2 separate regions of the Homo sapiens genome follow, and region 1 is linked to region 2. A link means that fine-mapping ties the variant in region 2 to the expression of a gene that starts in the linked region. Tissue or cell type: monocytes. Region 2 holds a variant in brackets; the other region holds the start of a gene. All regions are shown on one strand. Distances are between the middles of the regions.

Region 1 (8,195 bases), 100 kb before region 2:
GCTGAAGAAAATAGTTCGTTATAACTGGAAAGACATGAATACTATTTGGCATCTTTAGAACTTAATGATTAAATTATTTATGTAAAATATAGGGATTGGTCATTTAATCAAATACTACTTAAGTCGAAATGCCTAAATACAAATATAAATAAACCTTTTATTTTCACAATCAAGATTGATATTTAGCAAATAAGAGGCATTTCAGAATAAATCCACATTAAATGCATATCCAGAATTAAAAAGGGCATCTTTTTTGATGCTAACTAAAACCATCCTAGAAATAGTAAGAACTATTTTAAACTCTTCTGGAAAGAAGATTTGGGTTTCCCAAATAAATTACTCACACACTCTTAGTATTTATGTGCTACTTGTCATTGCTCTATTGATAAGTATGGCTAAGTTCACCATATACTGAATAATATTTTTTTCTTCAAACCAGAGCATTTTTGAGCCTGAAATTATGAATTGGGACTGCCCCAGAAAACTAGGACATATGATCACTCTATTGAAGGTATTTCCCCTCAGAAAGTTCATTGTGTACTCCCATTTAAAGTAAGCATTTATAATTTTGTTGGATTTAAAAATCCATTTGAATTAGTCCATGACATAGCTCACTAGCCAGTACTAGCACTTTATTCTAGCAATAGCCACCCCTCCAACACTCATGAATATCTGTAAGAAAATACTAAGTTCGCAGGAAGATCTAAATCCATCAGGATATAAGAATTTTTAAAATAGGCAAATGTTTGGCCAATTATTTTTTATGTTACTTGGCTTTCTTGAGAAAATACATTATTAAATACTGAAAGAAACTCTACATATAGGCTATAAAATAGTTTTATTTATCTGTATATTAACCTGGTATACATTTCTGTATATCTGACCTGATATATATACTGTTCATTTCAAACATAGTTTTCTGCACCTTCCAAATTCTTATTCATAGTAACTATTTTTAAAATAATATTGTAATCTTCTTTAAAATGATAGCTATGTGCCCAATTAAAGTGAAAAACGGCCCTTTGGTTTTAGTAATAGATAATAGCATATTCACTCTCATGTCCCAGACATTGTACCCAGATTCTTTTACTAAATGCAATTTATTTTTGTTTTGAAAAGCAACTTGAAAAGTGCTAACAGCAATTGCTAGGTAAAATAATAAAAGGTTGGGTCAACTTATTTCCTTGCTAGAAGTAGTTTTTTAATGTAAAGCTTTTAAACATATAAGCTTCTGATGTAAAGTTTATGTGTTTCTCCTCAAATTATTGGTGCATTTATCATAAGGCAAGTTATATATAATATTGCTGACTGCATAAATTATCACCAAGTATAAGTAATTGCTTTCAGACAATTAAGAACACAGAAGAATTATTAACATAAAATAATAACTTTTAAAACTTCAGAATAATTATTTTAAAAGTCTTTCTTTTGACTTGTTCTTGCACTCTCACTAGGGAAAGTCTGTCCTTAATATATTTCCTGTAAAAGTGTTCTGCTTTATTTTGTTTGTTCTTGTGGCAAGAATTATGCTCCAAGGCAGTATCCATACAAATTCAAAATAAGTGGTCAGTTTGGTCAGTAGAAAATTAAATTTGTCAAACCACATTTTGGTCTGGTTTAACTAACATATTCAATATAAACAGTAGCCCAGAAACTTGGAGTTAGCCTACTCCTAATTTTGAGTCAACTTGCATTTGACATAGTAACTAGTATCCCCTATTGGAAGAAAAGGTCGCTTGTGAGCCTTATGTGTGAGCACAAATAAAAGCACAAATCCTGCATGTAGGATGCTAAAATGAAAATGTGTGACTGTCCATCATTACATGTATATATTTCTACACTTATACACCACTCCTCACTTCTACAGAAAACCTTATTGCAGTGCTCTGCATCATTACCTCTAGATTCTATGTTAGCAGCATCAGTTGCTAATTTCACAGAATTTGGCCCTTGACTTCTCATGTGCTAGTCAATCTGTTCATTAAAGGACTAGATAGCAGGGAACATTCTATTTTTACTTATCTCACTAAAACACAGTTAGCACATTACCTAGCTCAAAATACAAATTTGGTCACTACTAATTAAATTATTGCAAGTGGCTTTAATGTCTTCTGAAGAAAGATTATAATATATAAATCCATATAATGCCACGTTGGCTCAAAATTGCTTCATTGATTATTGAAATGTTTTCATTTAGCTCTGCTACAGTTTTCCAAACATTTGCCTTCATGTTTCAGTAGGTATTAGAGAAGTTTTTATGATCTATCTTATCACTTGCTCCTACATAACTTAGAATACCCTGAATGCCTTCCTGGAAGTCCTTGTACCATTTATTTTTTCTGAAGTTTATAAAATGGCAGCTCTTGAGGATTACTAGGATGCAATTTTCCTGTTATGTCTAAATAAGAATTAAAGATGATATTAATAAAATTTATCAAGGAGTCTTCATGGACTACAGCCATGGGCCCATGTGTACGTCAACTTAAATATAAATGATACAACTTCTACTAGACACCCCATAAAGTATAGCACTTGATAGAGAGTAGAAGAGAAAGAGCATTGGATTAAGGGTCTTATGACATGAGCTCAAAACATGAATTTTTTTCCTTCAGTAGACCTTACTAGTATTGGGCAAATGAAATCAATGAATCTCACCAGGCGCAGGGGCTCATGTCTGTAATCCCAGCACTTTGGGAGACCAAGGTGGGCGGGTCACCTTAGGTCAGGAGTTTCAGACCAGTCTGGCCAACATAGTGAAACCCTGTCTCTACAAAAAAATACAAAATGTTAGCTGGGTGTGGTGGCGGGCGCCTGTAATCCCAGCTACTTGGGAGGTTGAGGCAGGAGAATTGCTTGAACCCGGGAGGTGGAGGTTGCAGTGAGCTGAGATTGCGTCATTGCACTCCAGCCTGTGCAACAAGAGCAAAAACTCCATCAAGAAAGAAAGAAGGAAGGAAGGAAGGAAGGAAAGAAAGAAAAATGAATCTTTGGAAAGACGAAAATATCAATGCTTTTATAAACATATTGGGAAAAGTTTTAGTTTTCCATGATTTAATTAAATTCAAAAACTATATATTAATCTCTTTATAGGATTCATATATTACACTTAGCATGGAAGATGAGAAGACATGACCCATTATTACTTTCATATTAAATCTAGTATTTGTTTTTCTCTGAATTTCAAGATGGGAACATGAAGCCTAAAAAGCTTTGTCAAGATCACACCAGACAGTATCAGAACCGGTTCACCAGTGTAACTCAGTTTCTTACAAGTCTTTTCTATTAACCATAATTATAGAGATGAAAGTATATCTATTTTTTATATGTCTGTATTTTGTAATCAATATTGATCTCACTGGTCTTAAAATCAAAGATTGTATAAACATTTTCTTCCACTAATTCAGACAATAAAAATGTCAACATGAGCACCCTGCTTTAAAAACATGATATTCCTGAATTTATTTTGCCTTTACCTCCTTTGTCTGCCTACAAGGTGTATGGCACCTCATTTTATCCTGGAATTGCACTAACAATTTACTAAGAGTTGAATGATCCTCACCGTATCTTATCTATTTCAAAATGTTATGAAATTTGTCGATTCAAAGCCTTAGACATAAAATCTATCTCTTCTAGTTTATAGATGAGAAAATTTATGCCCTGATAAATTAAGTGACTTTTAGTGCTGTTTAGGTTATAGGGATTATAATTATTGCTTCATATCGAACATTTACCAAATTATAAAAATGATAAAAGCATTTTAAATTTACATTTTCCCCTGATCATATCCAATGATGTATTAAACATATTCAGGAAAAACTATGCTTTGAGATGAAATTTTGTCTAAGAAATAAAGTATCCTTTGTATTTATATTATTTTATAATATTATGTTTACAACATCTATATTTTCTTTAAGATTATATTGACTTACAAATATTGTGGTATAAATTATTTTATATTATAAATAACATAATTATACCAAATATTTTTAAATGTGTGCAATAATTTTAAAATTATGAATTATTCAAAAGGCTATTTTGTCAAATATATATACTTATATATTATAAAAGAAACACTCTATACACACACATACACAACCTGAATTTATAACACATACACTCATGTTCTTATGAAGAAGGTAAAGGAAAAAATAAAAGATTTAAAAACTGCAGGATAAAGTTTCTTGATCTAATTAACTGATTAGGAACTGCACTTAGGAACTGATGGAGGAACAGCACCCAATTAGCAGAGCTCCAAATTAAGAAGAGCCAAATCACAAAACCAGTTATGATGAATACAGTTAATTTTTTTTTCTGTGTTGTGCTATGAACACAGATTTGTTAGATTTTTTTTCCTGGATACTTTGTAAGCTATAATTCAACACACACACACACACACACACACACACACACACACACACGCCTAACTCCTTTGATTCTTTGAGCAGAATACTATATTCAGATTTCCTTCAAATCACAAGTAGCTTGTTTGGCAAGTTCTAACAGAACTCAGTCAAGGTGAAAGCCAGCCAGCTTTTTACTGGTAACAATGTATTCACACAGCCTATGATCTCTCTCTGTTCAGGCTGCTTCTTGCTCTTGTCTCACAATAAGAAAGGAGTGCTGCTTTCCTGGGGTATGCTATTTGAGAAAGAAAGTAACCTAACACTAACTGCAGGCGGGGTCAGAGTGATGTAACAGGAAGCTCTGATGTTTCCCTTCTGCTGCTGATCACTTACAATCTGACAACACTTACAATCTACTCAGAACAACCTCTCTCTCTCCAGCAGAGAGTGTCACCTCCTGCTTTAGGACCATCAAGCTCTGCTAACTGAATCTCATCCTAATTGCAGGATCACATTGCAAAGCTTTCACTCTTTCCCACCTTGCTTGTGGGTAAATCTCTTCTGCGGAATCTCAGAAAGTAAAGTTCCATCCTGAGAATATTTCACAAAGAATTTCCTTAAGAGCTGGACTGGGTAAGTGCACATTCAAAATAAATATATTTATTCTAAGTAGTATTCTCATATAGTTTGGCAATGTTTCTATTATAGAATTTAGTAGATAGCACTGAAATAATGTTGAAACATAGTCTCACTTATTTCACATGCTAGAGAAAATACAGCCTACTACCCCAACATGAATACAAAATCTAATACTACTAGATAATATTGTTTACCATGGTATTCTAGAAAATAAATTTAGCAAGTATTAAAAATCTAAATGGATTAAAAGACATATTTCTGAACAAATACCTTAATCACAGAACAATGTCTTTTAAAATTAGCTCTAATATTAGCTAAGCTTGAATCTTGACAACTGGAAAACATTTCTCCCCCCGGAAGGGTCTTTAAACTTTCCATGTTATCAGCTGTAAGAAAGAGGTGAAAGAATAACTACTTAATGGGTCTCGGAGTCTCACTTACTCTGTGGTTGATCATAATGCAGAGTTTTGAAAAGTAATCACTTTGTATTTATTACATTTGCTTTTATTTGCCTTTCACCTTTATTTACACATATATCTGTAACTACTGAACTAATTTTTGTGTTCATTGTTGCCAGATGTGTTTAAATCTCTCTTCTGCTAACCCTGAACTGTTTGCTCTTTATTTGGATCATGGTGTCGGCTACAAAGAAAAAAAAAAACCTAGAGTTTAGGAAATGTAGATTTTTAAAACAATTCTTAATTTTGAAATCTTTAAGAGAATACTTCAACTTGACTGGTTCCCCTCTGCAAGCTTTTGGAGGGGGGTGTGATACCACGATATCTGTGGATAAAGAAACGTGACAGCTTTCCCAAAGAAGTATATTAGACGATTAAACAAAGAAATTAAAGTATTTATTAAAAAAGAATTTCCAGGATGGAACTTACTGAAATGTTGGATAAAACATCTGTTAATGCTCATTCCGATAGTACAGACTGTCCTGAACAATTTAAGAAACTAATGTCTGCTTAATAAATTGTTTGTGTAGATATATCACAAATTTGTTGCTGGAGAAAGTTTGATGTCAAATTTTAAATGATGTTGATAGATATGATTTTTAAGTTATATATTTTCTTACCTAAATGCAATTATACTTTCCAAGATGTCCTGCATTGGAAGCATCCTGTACTTAATCACTTATATCTGGCACATTAATAATAGACTACAAACATCCTGAGTAACTCCTCAGTAATTTACAACTCAATTTTTCCACAAATTCCTCAATATAATGAAAATTTAAATTAATTCTTAGATTTGTGATTCTTTAAGAGTATCATGGCTGATTTCTCTCTCTTTTCAATCTTCAGTTGTACTGAGTTCCCTGACACATGTGTAGAAATGGGAAAAGTGTTTTTAGAATGTGACTTTAGCCATTATATAAATGGGGGAGAAAGTGGAAACAACACATTTACTAACCCAATGACGTGGGTTAGTAACAAAAATTAAAACAACATTATTTTTAATTCAGATTATTTTCTTAGGAGGTATTATATTATGATCATATTTTATAATGAGAAACTCTCCAAACTTCCTTAATTTTTGTTTAATTGCTAGTCCCAAACCCATAATTTTCTTGTATAATTTGATTAAATTTTTATGAGTTTACTAACAGTATGGTTTATAATCTTTGTTTTCCAAAAATACTTTTGAAAAACACTAGGCGATGAACATTGAAGGTCATTAGCCAAAGGAAATATTTGAGGACATAACTGGAAGTTTGAAATAAAAATTCATATTATTGTATTCAAAATGTGCTTTCTTTAATGATAAGAAAATATCAGAATATCAATGCATGCTTTTAGCCATAAAGAAATGAATTTACTTTGCTAGAAGATGTTTCCTTGTAGCATCATAAAATCAATGCATTGAGCCTACAGTCAATGCTAAATATGTAAAATGAAACATAGAATTGAAATAGTATGTGAATAATGTGAGCTGAAATATGTTTTACCTGAAATATTCTATTTCTTAAAGAGATAATGTTTTTGATTATTGTTACAAGATTTTTTTTCTATCTTACATACCAAAGCATTATACTAAAAGTTAAAATATGTAGATTTTTATAATATATGAAACTGTTCATTCACTTTGAAAAATTGGAATAACAAAAACATTGTTTAAAATAATACTGGGTCTGTAATTTTAAAAATTATTTTAAATGAATGGGCAAGATTCATATGGTTTTCTCACTGGTGACTCCGAACATGTAATGAATTTTAAATGAAGACAATACTTAGCATATTTGTAAGAATATTTATGTTCACCTGCACATATTATACTATTTTTTCATGCATAACAGAAATAAAATTTCATAAAAAATTGAAAATAATATAAAGGTAAAATGATTACCTTGTTTGCTTTACAGATTAATGTGGACAAAGTATTTGATAAACACATAAACACTAACTGAATTTCAGTTAATAGCATCATTATATATTTCTAACTAGATCATATTTGGAAACATTGTAAAAATATTTTGCTACCAATTTTATCTACATGGCAAAAGTTTGATAGTAACTTAATTTTAAAAGATTGTTCTAGATCTTTATAGAAAAAATATAATAATCTTTAAAGGATCAAAAACTTATTCACTAAACAAAATTTATTTCATACTCTATATATGACTTTTAATACAGCTTTATCAAATAATTCTGGTTTTGGAGATATAATGATTACAGTATCGACTTTTCACAATACAAATATGTTCAAGAAATAGTATTTAAAATCTTTTGCTTTATTGCGTATCTTATGCTTGGCATTCAGAGAAGCTATTAAACCATAAACACAAGCGCTATCATTGCAAGGGTGTTAATGAAAGACGCTCTTATGAGAGTCAAGTGTGTAACGTATCTTAGTTTTGACTTAATCAGAATATTGGAGAATACGCTTAAGATAGACAAATGGTACACAGCTATTTAAAACATTTATCTGTATCTGGTTTTCAAATCCATGGGTAAACTATAAACATTCATAATTTCTCAGGTATGTTCTATTTTTCTGACAAAGTACATGTACCATACTGGATTACAAATTATTTCAAGACATCTTCTCGTTTAATATACAAAAATATTATGATGCAAATAGGTGGAAAATAAAAACTTACCAGAAATACAAGTCTACATTCTAACCAGATGGATCTATCCTTTTCCCATATATTCACATGGACCATGTAAATTAGATTAGGTCAATTAATCTCTGCATTTTTCCTTATTT
Region 2 (8,195 bases):
TCTGTATCTACAGAAACAGATTTTAATTCCATGAACTAATTTTTAAATATTCAAAACACACTCACTAGTAAAATATTTTGTAACAGGAGGCAGTGTAGAATAAACACAGCAATGCATTTAATCACCAAAGATGCTACTTTTCATCTTGGCTGTGATATTTTGGCAAATGCTGGCAAATTTCAGGAGCCTGTGTCTATCTTTCTTAAAGGGAAATTAAAGCAAGTTCTCTACACAGGTCTCAGAAAAATAAATACAAGCTAAGAAAGATAAAGTTTTTAGCACCATGCCCCACTTCATGAGATTCTCAGTATACTTATTATTTGATTTGTCAAATCACTTATTTTCAAAAACACATGTGCCAACAGGAACATTAATCATTTTGGATCAAAATCCCAAATTGGCTCTTTTATTTAGAAAGAGTGCCCAGGGAATATCTAAAGTAATGCCTAACACTCCTGTTACACTCGATCTGTGTAAACAAAAGGGACACAGAACCTTGATCTTCTGCCATGTCCTAAAATTGAGAAAATTTTGACATTGGAAAATTACAATAATACACAATGTTTGAGCTAGGTTGTTCCCAAATCTTTCAGTTCCTCACAACATTTCTAATATCTGTTCCTTTTCTTCATCTCTGGAGATACAATCCCTGTTTCAGTATGATTCATTTCTCTTCTTAAGAAATACTGTGATCCCTCCCTTTTTGTCTCAATGCCTCTTACTTTTTCCCACTCTCATAACATGAAGAAACAACTGCCAAATTCATTTTGTTCCAACTATGTCATGTACTTCTTAAAATCATTTGCTCAGGCTTAGTTTCCTTCTTGTTTTCCACATTAGGTCAAATGCCTGCCTTTAGCTTAATATTTGTGTTTTTTTCTTTCCCACCTTTTATGCACTTTTTAGCTAACGTCTTGCTATTAGCATTTCTCACTAGTTAAATAAATGTGGCTTGACAAGTGCTTGGATTACTTTCATTTTATCCCTAGTGCCCTCAGACAAAAATGTGCACTGTGATCATAAACTAGGGACTCTAGTCATCAGAAGGTTATATTTAACAACACCTGAGGGTAGATATTCCATAAGATGAGCAAAAAGTTTTGTTGAGGACAGACAATTAAACCCAAATTCTTTCATGAGAACTACGTAGAATTTTTATAAAAGTTTCGTAAATATTTTAAATTGATTCCCATTAAGGAGTATAAAGTTAGTTCCTTATTGGGTGTTAATGGGTATATAAAGTTGTAATGTTACATTCTAAACATTTGCCTTACTACTTATACATGGTCATGCATAAAACAATAAAAACATTCATATCTTTAATAACACCCAGCTATCTTCCCTTACAATGGAAATTTGCTCCTACTGATTTTTTCTCATTAAAAGTTTATTAAGAGTAGCTGCTTTAATGTCGTATTTAACAGGTGTGATATTGTATTAGAGGAAGCAGAAGAAAAATGTAACATCCTTAGAGCAAATAACATAAACAAACAAGTCTACAAGGCCTGTGGATCTTTAATTAGGTTTATTTTTAACTATAGTAAGACCTCACAGTTCATGAAATTGGCTTTCTATGGTTTTTCTGATGATTTAGTTGCAAGGAAGAAATAGAGTGATGACCTTAATCAAAGTAGATATTTTAAGAGCAAACAGTCATATATTTCAATAGCCATTTTCCTTCCAAATTGAATTTAAGCTTTCCTTTTTAAGACTATAAGTACTAGACTCACAGCTAAGATATTACTTCCTCTCAGCTTTTTCTCATACTTTATATAGAATTTTTTATACAAAGCTATATGCCACTTCCCCTCAACCAGAAACTATATTGATTACATACTCAACCAATTCAGCATTTAGTAACAAAATTAGGAGAAGTTTATGAAACAAAAAATAAGGATCAAAAATATTTCTCATCAGATGTATCTAGATAATTGGTCAATGGTCATTTTTATTTTGAATCTCTGAATATGTATTTAAAATTCACAATCTGAAGCCATTCAATTTGTAGTTTGCTCATGATCTTGAGGTTGTTACATATGCAGATGTTATTTTTAAATTATCTGAATTTAGATATTTTATACGGAGGATTTAGAATTATATTACTAAATTGAGAGGAAAGTTTAATTTTTGCAAGATAAATAAATTTGTTGCCTTATAAATGCTTTTATTTTCAAAGCATATTTACATGAATATAAATTGTTTTCTTCAGATATGGTTACCATATATTTTTTAAATTGAGCTTGAAAGGGCTGAAGTTACTGAACTTCATCATAATGTAACTTTCAATACGAAGTTATTTCATTTTAATTATATAATTTTTGAACTATATAGTAGAGTGAAATTAACTGATAATTTTAATACCTCATTTAATTTTACCTAAACACATTGTTGGCTTTATATTTGCTCCTTCTTTTTTCCTACATGAAATGAGACAATAAAACTTTGAGTTTATTTTAAGTGACAGACTATAAGATACTTTAACAGGAACTCTGAAGTATCCTGTAAAGCTGCAGACATCCTGGAACACCTATTTTCTATAGAATGTTTGTAATTGGAGGAATTGAGGTTTTGTGTGTGTGTGTATGTGTGTGTGTGTGTGTTTTAATCCATTAGACTAGGAAATAACAAGAGAGAAGTAAGCCCTTTTTAAAGATTTAATATTGATTTGTATACATGGATATAGTGAAGAGAAAGTTGAGGAATTCTATATAAGTAGTAGAAAGTTAAACAATTATACCTCAGTACGTAGAAAATGAATTACCAGAAAATTGCTGTGAGATGCTCAGATTCCCTTTGGAAAAGCACTGAAAGAGCCAAAGAGCAATAGAGAGCTTGGGGAAGACCATTCAAAGCAAACCCACTCTGGGCAGATATAGATCGGGTCACAAGGATTTGGCTAACACATTCATAACCTAAAAGCAGGCTGCTCCAAGCCAGTGTGCTCACTCATCAGACATGGAAAAGTCCTCAACGTACTTGAGCTAGAGATGTATTTAAATGTTCTCATTTGTGCCCATTGACTGACAATGAAGAAAATTCACTCTTGTGCCTTACATTCCATTATGACCAATATTTTACTGTATAGGACCCACCTACCCCTGATCTCTAGCTTCAAACAGAGGGGAAGGAAGTCATTAAACTGCAAATTTATTCAGCAGAAGAGGATTCAAATATATAAAAATGGAGTGGTTACATTCCTAAATTTATTTTTCACAATATTCACCAGATTTATAATTATTTGTTCAACACTTTTCTTTCCTCTATGTAGTAAGCTCCATGAAGACAAATATCATGCTCCCTTTTTTAGAATGTAGCACAATTTCTGGCATATGGGAGTCACTCAGAAACAAAGGTTGCTGCTACTGCCCTGCTGCTGCTGCTGCTGATTTGTATTCTTCGTATCCTAACTTCTTTTCTTTTGTGTATCTTTCGCTTATCCTGTCACGAATTGTCTTCTCATTCTATTAATAAAGACATTAATATAAAACTCAATGTTGCACATGAAATCTT[G/A]TAAATGGGGGTCCAGATTACCTATTTGTTTGGCAACAATAAATACATATGAATTATAAAAGCTTTGAAGACAAAACATGCCATGAAAAATATTAATGGAATGTAAAGTACAATGTAATTGTAATACATTTCCTAATGTGAAGATGGTACACTTAATTTTTTAAATTAAGAAAATGAAGCTATATTATTCACTGATTAACATAACTTTTTTTAAAAAAGCTCTTCTCCAAGACCTATTTAATTGTGCTTCAAAAACAGTGTCTTCATTTCAATTAATGGGTTGTTCTTGTTCTTTCTGTTTTCCTTTTGATTGATAGGTTCAAGCAATTCTGAGAAGAAACTGGAATCAATACAAAATCCAATTTGGAAACAGCTTTTCCAACTCAGAAGCTCTTCGTAGTGCGTCTTACACAGTGTCAACAATCAGTGATGGTCCAGGTTATAGTCATGACTGTCCTAGTGAACACTTAAATGGAAAAAGCATCCATGATATTGAAAATGTTCTCTTAAAACCAGAAAATTTATATAATTGAAAATAGAAGGATGGTTGTCTCACTGTTTTGTGCTTCTCCTAACTCAAGGACTTGGACCCATGACTCTGTAGCCAGAAGACTTCAATATTAAATGACTTTTTGAATGTCATAAAGAAGAGCCTTCACATGAAATTAGTAGTGTGTTGATAAGAGTGTAACATCCAGCTCTATGTGGGAAAAAAGAAATCCTGGTTTGTAATGTTTGTCAGTAAATACTCCCACTATGCCTGATGTGACGCTACTAACCTGACATCACCAAGTGTGGAATTGGAGAAAAGCACAATCAACTTTTCTGAGCTGGTGTAAGCCAGTTCCAGCACACCATTGCATGAATTCACAAACAAATGGCTGTAAAACTAAACATACATGTTGGGCATGATTCTACCCTTATTGCCCCAAGAGACCTAGCTAAGGTCTATAAACATGAAGGGAAAATTAGCTTTTAGTTTTAAAACTCTTTATCCCATCTTGATTGGGGCAGTTGACTTTTTTTTTGCCCAGAGTGCCGTAGTCCTTTTTGTAACTACCCTCTCAAATGGACAATACCAGAAGTGAATTATCCCTGCTGGCTTTCTTTTCTCTATGAAAAGCAACTGAGTACAATTGTTATGATCTACTCATTTGCTGACACATCAGTTATATCTTGTGGCATATCCATTGTGGAAACTGGATGAACAGGATGTATAATATGCAATCCTACTTCTATATCATTAGGAAAACATCTTAGTTGATGCTACAAAACACCTTGTCAACCTCTTCCTGTCTTACCAAACAGTGGGAGGGAATTCCTAGCTGTAAATATAAATTTTGTCCCTTCCATTTCTACTGTATAAACAAATTAGCAATCATTTTATATAAAGAAAATCAATGAAGGATTTCTTATTTTCTTGGAATTTTGTAAAAAGAAATTGTGAAAAATGAGCTTGTAAATACTCCATTATTTTATTTTATAGTCTCAAATCAAATACATACAACCTATGTAATTTTTAAAGCAAATATATAATGCAACAATGTGTGTATGTTAATATCTGATACTGTATCTGGGCTGATTTTTTAAATAAAATAGAGTCTGGAATGCTATATTTGGTAAATATTTTAAAGACAACCAGATGCCAGCATCAGAAGTCTGTTTGAGAACTAAGAGAACAGAAACATCTATCATAAGATATATTTATTTTAAAAACACAAGGTCACTATTTTATTGAATATATTTGTTTTGATAACTCATACCTTAATAATAGGTGTGTTTGACATATTTCTTTTTTCATTTTGACAATGAACTCACATTCTAATCCAGAAATTTTAAACAACTACTGTGATAAATACCAATCTGCTACTTTTATAGATTTTACCCCATTAAAATATTACTTTACTGACTTTTACTATGTGAAGATATATAGCTTTGGAAATGTCCCAGGCTATTCAAGAAATATAAAAAACTAGAAGGATACTATATATACCATATACAATGCTTTAATATTTTAATAGAGCTACTGTATATAATACAAATTAGGGAAATACTTGAATATATCATTGAGAAAAAATTATTGTCAGATCTTACTGAATTATTGTCAGACTTTATTAAATAAAGATAGAAGAAAACCTTGCTAATGAATTAAAGTGAAATTTGCATGGGATTCAGTTTCTCTAATGTTATTTTCCGCTGAAATCTCTAAAGAACAAGAATGACTTCAATTAGTAAAAGTCAATTTTGGGAAAAGTCATGGGTATCTGTTTTTTAAGTGTGTCAATCTGATTAAAATGGATGAAACAAATTACTCATCATAAGTTGTTTCTTAAGCTGTCAATATGTCAATAGATGGTGAGTTCAGAACTTATTTCAAATTGCTAAGACAAATTATCTAAATTCGTAAGAATTAACATATAGAATGGTCTGGTCAGTACATTTATAATTTATCTATGCATGAAAAAGTATTGTTTTGTTTGAAACATGAATTTCATAGCAAGCTGCCATAGAAAGGAACGCAGGCTGTTCTAGACCTTCAACTGCCTAAATTATACAAAAATTCATTTTAATAAACTCAATTATTAGCTATTTATTATTCAAAGACCCATATTTAAATCCTTTGCTGACCATGTTGACATATATCAGCCTTCTTCTAGACAAACTGTCAACTCTCAACCATCTTGACAGTAGAAGTGACAGTAAAAAATGTTGAATGATCAGAGATTATATTAAAATAAACATGTAATTTTCAAGTATTTTTGTTGTGCTTTTATAATATTAATTCTAGATCAGATTTATTTTATAGCCAGGGTTTGTCTGTTGTAGAGTCTTGAGGCGTAGCAGTCATTCATGATTAATCACTGTTAGTTTTGTACCCATATATTTTTAGAATAGTTTTAAATGTTAGATTTCTCAAAAGCTAAATGCTACTTAATATCTTTGTATCATACTCATAAAGCAAAGTAAATCTGACACTTTTTTTAAAGCAAACTTCTTTGCTGTCAAAAAAATAAATTTGGGGAAATTTCTAGCTTTTAAAATGTAGATCTGCATTTTACTGTGATTACTTGTGAAAGTCATATTTTAATTTTCTAAATTCTAATTTGTCATTTTATTTCCTAAAGTTAATTTCCAATGCATTTATTCATAAAATATTCATTCTGGAATGCAGTGTTTGTTTAAATGTAATCCAATGTATATAGAATTAGTGGTGGCTGTAGTGCTGTATTTATTGCTTATAATTTTTTTTAAATGTGAACTTACTTTTAATTTTCTCTTGGTTTTAATCTGCTAGTAGAAACCACTAGTTATCTGTAAAAATATATTCAAGATATTCTGATCAATTATAACAATTTATGTTATGCCTAGAGTATATCTCTATTTTTTGATTGTATGAAAATATTAAAGTTATGAGTTAAAGTTTATTTTCACTGATATTTACTACAGTGCCAAATAATCTAATTTATAAACATAATTCTTACAGTAATCAATGGGATACTTCTCAAAATTAACAAATCTCTTAACAAAATATATCTTTTGCCCTCTTTAAAGTCTTCAGTAAACCAGTAAATGAATTCAATAAACCAATTAAGAAAAAGTCATGATTTGTTTTTCAAACTAAAAAAATCCAACTATACTACAATGGATGCAAACTCCTTCTTATGCTGAAAGAAGAAAAAGGATGTCTCAAAATAAGAAAATGTTCAGAAATTCATCTCCTTTATCTACTATATTTCATTTTGTAGTTTTGTTTAAATATTAGAAAGAAAAATAAGTATTTAAAGGTAATTTTTAAAGAGGGCATATTCATGGCTCTCACACAAATATAAAATGAAAATGTTTCAAAGATTTCGTTTAACTCATTAATTAATGAAGGAACAAGTAAGATGTTACAAAAATTCAAAGGAGAATTCAAAATATCACACTATATGAGAATATTAAAAATGTTGAAATAAATTTATAAATAAGTGCAAAACCACTCTATCCTTAGGGCAATAATCAGTTGCATTCCACTTAATAACTAATTTTTATTTTTATGATCAATAATAATGTACATCATTTTCTGTTTTCTGGAGAAAATGCCCATTTAAAACACTTGTGTTTTTTTCTTATAATCTCTCCTCCTTGTGATTATACTAATCTCAAAGAAAGAATATTCTTGATTAAAAATATTGCTAGTTTAATAAGGTTTGGCCTATTGTTGAGATAGGTACATGAGAGTGTTAATTACAATATAGACCTCCTCAAGTTGGTTTTACAAATCTAGAACCATAGTGCACTTTTTAACAGCTTCATTGAGATATACTTGACATATCATATAATACTTCATATTCAAAGCAGTTTTTAGTATATTAGTAGAGTATATTTTAATACATCCATAGAGACACGCTACCATCACCAATTTCATTACATTTTTATGACCTTGAGAAGAAACAGTGTATCCTTTAGCCATCACTTCTCTATCCCTCTATCTCTACTTTCATTTCAGCTATAAACATCACTAATTTACATTCTGTCTCAACAGATTTCCCTATTCTAGACTTTCATATGATTGTAATCATATAGTATGTGACCTTTTGTGACTAAATGATTTCACTTATGTTTTTAAAATTCATTCATGTTTTGGCATGTATCAATGTTTCCTTTTATTCCATTGGGTGAACATACCACATTTTATTTATTCA

What was found. PIP is the estimated chance that this variant, and not a neighbour inherited with it, causes the effect.
Region 1: CALCRL starts here. The variant in region 2 is fine-mapped to the expression of CALCRL in monocytes (TOPMed, PIP 0.95).

What each region holds. Positions count from the first base shown.
Region 1 is chr2:187,444,820-187,453,014 of GRCh38, reverse strand. It overlaps CALCRL (calcitonin receptor like receptor), which reads left to right and starts at 4,763. Exons shown (of 15, transcript NM_005795.6): 1 at 4,763-4,976. All of the region lies in intron 2 of CALCRL-AS1 (CALCRL and TFPI antisense RNA 1), which reads right to left.
Region 2 is chr2:187,342,032-187,350,226 of GRCh38, reverse strand. It overlaps CALCRL (calcitonin receptor like receptor), which reads left to right. Exons shown (of 15, transcript NM_005795.6): 15 at 3,828-8,195. The coding sequence ends at 4,043. The region is part of intron 2 of CALCRL-AS1 (CALCRL and TFPI antisense RNA 1); the gene reads right to left. Among named protein-coding and RNA genes, the nearest start is that of CALCRL, 100 kb to the left of the region's middle. The variant G/A (reference allele first, on the strand shown) is at 3,511.